Homo sapiens: one gene and its partner. The protein of the gene in region 2 purifies or fractionates together with the protein of the main gene of each other region. This does not show direct contact. Each region holds a gene or a part of one and is shown on either strand. Other genes may lie near its edges.

Region 1 (3,500 bases), on a different chromosome or scaffold from region 2:
AGACAGGTTGTGTGCAAGGGCTCAGCAGTCACATGTAACTAGTAGCTATGGGACTAGACAGCACAACTTTAGACAGCCCTTAAGTACCAGGGCTGTCTAAAGAGCCCTGGCACCAGAAGAGGTTCTGCTTGAAAGATACATGATCCTGGCCCTAGGGCTTCCTAGCCTGGCGGGATCCACGGGGAGGATCCATGATCAGGGAGGCCTTGTTGCACTTAGGGAGAAAAGTCATTGTTCGTTCAGAGGGCTCAAGACTAAATGTATACTCAGTTTATTCAGTTAAGGAAATCGAAGGGAAAAGATGGTGAATCCAGGAAGGCTTGCTGGAGGTGGTACCTTAGAGCTGTGAAACTCTTCATTCATGGGGAAGAGGAAGAATGGAGCTCAGGTTTGGGTGGGGGGTGCTTCAGGTCCCCCAGGGTTTTTCCTGAGTATATAGGTGGTGATATGCCAGAGGGGGTTGTGGGGGCAAGATGCAGGGTCGGTGGGAGGGCAGTCAGGTGCCCTGACAATGGTGCTTAGTCATCACCCCCAACTCCGTAGTGCCACTCCACGGGCAGTCCCCACTAGTGACGGGTGAACGTGTGGCCACCAGCATGCGGACGGTAGGCAAGCTCCCGCGGCATCGGCCCCTGAGCCGCACTCAGTCCTCACCGCTGCCGCAGAGTCCCCAGGCCCTGCAGCAGCTGGTCATGCAACAACAGCACCAGCAGTTCCTGGAGAAGCAGAAGCAGCAGCAGCTACAGCTGGGCAAGGTGAGCCTGGAAAGGTGAATGGCCTGGGGCTGTGGTGGGGGCAGGACACAGGAGAGTACCAGGCTGGCAGAAAAGTCCTCCTTTCAGGCCAGACACGGTGGCTCGCGCCTGATTGGGAGGCCGAGGTGGGCAGATCGCCTGAGGTCAGGAGTTCGAGACCAGCCTGGCCAACATGGTGAAACCCCCGTCTCTACTAAAAATACAAAAATTAGCCAGGCGTGGTGGTAGGCACCTATAATAATCCCAGCTACTCGGGAGGCTGAGGCAGGAGAATTGCTTGAACCTGGGAGATGGAGGTTGCACTGAGCCCAGATCGCACCATTGCACTGCAGCCTGGGTGAGAAGAGCGAGACCGTCTCAAAAAAACAAACAAAAATTAGCTGGGCGTGGTGGCGTGCGCCTGTAACCCCAGTCACTGGGGAGGCTGAGGCAGGAGAATCGCTTGAATTTGGAAGGCGGAGGTTGCAGTGAGCCGAGATCGTGCCACTGCATGCCAGGCTGGGCGACAGAGGGAGACTCTGTCTCAAAAAAAAAAAAAGTCCTCTCAGAGGAGCTACCTCACCTTTTTCTAATTCACATAGAAGCTCTACCTGGAAGAAGGGAGGGAGGGAAGGATAGACTGTTCTGGGTTTTAGGCTGCACAGCTGCTCCCCAACTCCCAGCTGATGTGCCCCCATATTCTGTTATCAGATCCTCACCAAGACAGGGGAGCTGCCCAGGCAGCCCACCACCCACCCTGAGGAGACAGAGGAGGAGCTGACGGAGCAGCAGGAGGTCTTGCTGGGGGAGGGAGCCCTGACCATGCCCCGGGAGGGCTCCACAGAGAGTGAGAGCACACAGGAAGACCTGGAGGAGGAGGACGAGGAAGACGATGGGGAGGAGGAGGAGGATTGCATCCAGGTTAAGGACGAGGAGGGCGAGAGTGGTGCTGAGGAGGGGCCCGACTTGGAGGAGCCTGGTGCTGGATACAAAAAAGTGAGCCCCGTCCCTGGTCCCAGTCCTTGGTCACCACCCCTCTGTCCTTCTCCACCCCTGCCTCTGCCCTTGTCTTTCCCTCTCCCCCATCTGCAGTTTCCAGGCTGTGCAGGAGCAGCTTTCTGTAGAGAGCAAAAGGGGAGTGGGAAGGAGGCCGGTGGGGAGAAGGGGGAGCTGTTTGTGTTGATCTCAGAGTTGTGTCTGTCCTAGGCTGCCAGTTCCCTCCCTGTGTCTGTGATACTGGCCTGCCTCTCTGCTTGTGTGTCTGTGTATGCATGCGTCGGTCCCTGTGCGTGCCTGTGCGTGTGTGTACACACACGCCCCCGCTGTTACTACTGTCTGCCTCGCGCCTAGCTGGCACTCCATTCATTGCGGACACAGCCGAGCCCTCCGGGCCTGACTCATCCCGCCCCCACCCCGCCCCCGCCCCCACCCCTCCCAGCCTCTTACCTCAATGCTACTCTTTGATGTGACTCATCACATCTCCCCCATCCCTCCCCATCTCAGAGGAGATGTGTCTCCTGTCCCTGGAGGGAGCAAGTGGGAGGAGGTGGGGGAAGGAGACTTGGAAGAAAAGGGCTGGATTGGGGCCCCACTGGAGGCCCTGACAGGGCCTGCCCTCACCCCTGTCCTGGCTGAGTCTGACCCAGGCCCCCTCCCATTCTCCCCTCCAGCTGTTCTCAGATGCCCAGCCGCTGCAGCCTTTGCAGGTGTACCAGGCGCCCCTCAGCCTGGCCACTGTGCCCCACCAGGCCCTGGGCCGTACCCAGTCCTCCCCTGCTGCCCCTGGGGGCATGAAGAGCCCCCCAGACCAGCCCGTCAAGCACCTCTTCACCACAGGTGAGCCCCCACCAACTGTTAGGTCCTTCTGCCAGGCACCAGAGGGCCTGTGTGTGGTGTCTGCCCCATGGCAGGGGGAAGAGGCTGCTGGGGCCCCTTAGGCACCCTGAAAGGAGGGGACACAGGCCTTCGTTCTCTCCCTGTACCCCAGAGCTGTTCATGGTAGCGGCAGGGCCTTCTGCCTCAGCCGGGAGAGTGGGTAGCGTCTTTCTCACCCCGCTGAAGGAAGGACTGCCCCACAGCCTGAAGTGCTGGGTAGAGAGAGCCTGCTGTCCCTGTTGGGCCCTGACCTTCTACCTTCCCTTCCTTCTCCCTGTGAGGTCTGGGATGAGACCAGAGTCCTCTTCCCTATGAAGCTGCCACAGGCTGGGCTCTGGGGGGACACAGACGTGCCTGAGGGTGGCCCTGTATCACCCGTGGAGAGTAAGACACGGGTTTGGCAGGAGGGGGAAAGCAGGAGGTGCCGTGAGAAGGGTGCAGCTGAGGAGGCACAGCTGGCAGAGATGAGACTCATGCGAGTGTCCAGGGCAGCCTTGCTGGGGCTTGAGGAGCAGGGAAGCTTCTGATAGGCAATAATGGAGCAAAGGAATTTCAGGAGGAGTCAAGAGGGGGCAAAGGCTGGAGAGGAAAGGCCAGGTGCAGTGGCTCACACCTGTAATCCCAGCATTTTGGGAGGCCAAGGTGGGAGGATCACTTGAGCCCAGGAGTTTGAGACCAACGTGAGCAACATAGTGAGACCCCGTCTCTTTAAAATAAAAAATAAAAAAATAGGTTGGGTGCAGTGGCTCACGCCTGTAATCCCAGCACTTTAGGAGGCTGAGGTGGGTGGATTACCTGAGGTCAGGAGTTCGAGACCAGCCTGGCCAACATGGTAAAACCCCGTCTCTACTAAAAATACAAAAATTAGCCAGGCGTGGTGGCACATGCCTG
Region 2 (3,500 bases):
TTAAAATTTAGTCCAGTAAAAGAATTTGTAGTCCCTTTGGAATTTGTCATAAGCTGTGATTGATTGTCTCGATGCTTTGAAACCATTCGATTTCAGAAGTAAAGGTCAAGCATTACAAAAATACATAAAGTAGGAAATGAAAGTTACTTGGGGACACAACCCCATTAATCACTTGACAGTTTGAATTAGACAGACTGTTAGACTAAACCAGCCTTACCTACAATATCTTAAATCCCAGCCATCATATATACTAAACTCATAAATAAGTACACCATATTCATTTAGCTGGGATTACAGGTGCCTTCCACCATGCCCGGCTAATTTTTGTATTTTCAGTAGAGATGTGGTTTCACCGTGTTGGCCAGGCTAGTCTTGAACTCCTGACCTCAGGTCGTCTGCCCACCTCAGCCTCCTGAAGTGCTGGGATTACAGGCCTGAGCCACCAAGCCTGGCCTGGTTTATTTGGTCTTAATGCTTATTTTTCCCCAGTATTACCTTCATTCTGATTTTTTTTTTTTTTAACTTTTTTTTTTTTTTTTTTTTTGAGACAGTTTTACTCTTGTCGCCCAGGGTGGAGTGCAATGGTGCAATCTCGGCTCACTGCAACCTCCGCCTCCCAGGTACAAGCAATTATCCTGCCTCAGCCTCCTGAGTAGCTGGGATTCCAGGCATGCGCCACCACACCTGCTAATTTTGTATTTTTAGTAGAGACAAGGTTTCTCCATGTTGGGCAGGCTGGTCTCGAACTCCCGGCCTCAAGTGATCCACCCGCCGCGGCCTCCCAAAGATTACAGGCGTGAGCCACCACGCCTGGCCAATTTTGTGTGTGTGTGTGTGTGTATTTTTTTTTTTTTTTTTTTTTTTGAGATGGAGTCTTGCTCTGTTGCTCAGGCTGGAGTGCAATGGCGTGATCTCTGTTCACTGCAACCTCTGCCTCCAGGGCTTAAGTGATTCTCCTGCCTCAGCCTCCCGAGGAGCTGGGATTACAGGTGCGTGCCACCACGCCCAGCTAATTTTTTAAAAAATTTTTAGTAGAGACAGCGTTTCACCATGTTGGCCAGGCTGGTCTCGACCTCCTGACCTTGTGATCAGCTGACCTCGGCCTCTCAAGGTGCTGGAATTACAAGCGTGAGCCACCAAACCTGGCCTTTATTACATTTTAAAACAATTTGGTGATGTATAGATTGAAGGTTAATATTTTGATTATGTAAATTCTGAAAGTATCTCTGGTATTAAATGGATAGTTCTGAAAATTATGGAAAATAAACTCATCTGGTGCGGAAGAGTAGAGACAGAAAAGACAGGAATCACTTAAATTGATAGTGTTCAGGAATTACTTCTCATTTCCACTTGCATTAGTAAGTAGCCCAGTTTTCTGATTGGCTTAGTGGGCTTAATTGTGTTTCTTGTGCCCTTCTATTCTGTGCTAATCTTCAGAACAATCCATTGAGGAAAATAGCATCTGTGATGATAGTTCATGTTTACACAGGGGAAAACTTCAGATTTAAAAGGCTGAAGTGATGTTCCCAAGGTCATATACAAGTATCATTTATAGCCGTTCCACGATGGCTCACGCCTGTAATCCTAGCACTTTGGGAGGATGAGGCAGGAGAATCGCTTGAACCTGGGAGGTGGAGGTTGCAGTGAGTCGAGATTGTGCAACTGCACTCCAGCCTGGGGGACAGAGTGAGACTCTGTCTCAAAAACAAACTACAAGTAGCATTTAAAGTTCAGCAATCTCGACTCACTGCAACCTCCACCAAAAGGGTGGGGGGAGCTGGGGACTTTCATTCTGGTTGACCTCTTTAGTTTAGTGGTTTTGATATTTAACTTGTTCACAAAATCTACTTTTAAAGAAAACCTTTTTGCCTGTATGTGTAACTGAAAAATCAGTAGGTAACTAAGCTTTCTGGAGGAGAGTTATGCCTAGTTTGTGGAATTACACAGATAAAGTAATCTGTTGTAAAGAATTTAAAAGCAGGCTGGGCGAGATGGCTCATGCCTGTAATCCCAGCACCTTGGGAGGCAGGCAGATCACCTGAGGTTGGGAGTTTGAGACCAGCCTGGTCAGCATGGTGAAACCCTGTCTCTACTAAAAATACAACACTTAGCCTGTAGTCCCAGCTTCTCGGGAGGCTGAGGCAGGAGAATCACTTGAACCCAAGAGGCAGAGGTTGCAGTGAGCCAAAATCGCGCCACTGCACTCCAGCCTGGGCGACAGAGCGAGACTGCGTCTCAAAAAAAAATAATAATAAAATAAAAGAATTTAAAAGTAAATTATCTTTGATTCTTCAAGTTTATCTGCAGTGGTATTTAATTTTTTATTGAGATACAGTTTACATATGCAGTTCACTATATATTGGCCTGTTCTGAATATTTCACACAAGTGGAATCATAATAAGCAGTCTGAATAATGCTGCTATGAATATTCATGTTTAAGTTTTGTGTGGACGTATGTTTTTGTTTCTTTTGGATATATACCTAAGCGTGAGATTGTGGGGCAGTATAGTAGCAACATTTTGGGTAATTGCCAAACTGTTTTCCAAATTAGCCATGCCATTTTACAATCCCACCAGCAATGTGTGAGGGTTCCAATTTCAGCACATCCTTAGCAATAATACTGTTAACATCTGTCTTTGTGATTACAGCTATCTTAGTGGATATGAAGTCTTCATCTCCTTGTGGTTTTGATTTGCATTTCCCTCACTGCTAATGATAATGTTCATCTTTTCATGTGTTTATTGGCTATTTGTAAATCTTTTTTTTACAGAATTCCATTAACATAAAACTATCTTAATTGTTCCAGGTCATAAGGTAGGCATTCTGTTGCTACCAACTCTTTACAGCTAATTCGTAGCTACCAGCGAATTACAGCAGAATAGTTATGAGGAACACATTTCCCATCTATCACCATTCTTTTTGTTGTTGTTTGTTTTTTGTTTTAAGACAGGGTCTCGCTCTGTTGCCCTGTGTGGAGTGCAGTGGTGTGGTCACGGCTCACTGAAGCCTCGGCCTTCTGGGCTCAAATGATCCGCCTACCTCCCAAAGTGCTGGGATTACAGGCATGAGCCACCATGCCTGGCCTGTTCTTTTTTCTGTGTACCACCTTTTCCTTATTTTATTAGACACATTTGTTTCTGTCTTAGACAAAATTGATAGCTTACATTTATTGAGGGCTTTACTATGTGCCAGACACAGTGTTAAATGCTCTGCATGTATTATTTAAGCTTTTGCAATTACAGGAAATGAAGATTCTGTTACTTTTACAGATGGGGAAACGGTGTTTTAGTAGCTTTACCAAGGTCATAATTATCTTGTGTTTGGAGACTATATTAAAACAAATTGTATACCTTTTTTTAAAAGCTTGTTTTGCCGGGTGTGGCGGCTCATGCCTGTAATCCCAGCACTTTGGGAGGCCGAGGTGAGTGGATCACGAGGTCAGGAGATCGAGACCATCCTGGCTAACAAGGTGAAACCCCGTCTCTGCTAAAAATACCAAA

The links. The genes of interacting proteins can lie anywhere in the genome.
Region 1: the proteins of REST (region 2) and HDAC5 purify together in Homo sapiens (affinity purification with western blotting; 2 studies listed by BioGRID, with this or other methods). This does not show direct contact.

Annotation. Positions count from the first base shown.
Region 1 is NC_000017.11:44,085,642-44,089,141, reverse strand, and holds part of HDAC5 (histone deacetylase 5), read left to right. Parts: intron 1-543; coding exon 544-755; intron 756-1,445; coding exon 1,446-1,730; intron 1,731-2,404; coding exon 2,405-2,570; intron 2,571-3,500. UniProt on the Homo sapiens protein: Responsible for the deacetylation of lysine residues on the N-terminal part of the core histones (H2A, H2B, H3 and H4).
Region 2 is NC_000004.12:56,914,400-56,917,899, forward strand, and holds part of REST (RE1-silencing transcription factor), read left to right. Parts: intron 1-3,500. UniProt on the Homo sapiens protein: Transcriptional repressor which binds neuron-restrictive silencer element (NRSE) and represses neuronal gene transcription in non-neuronal cells.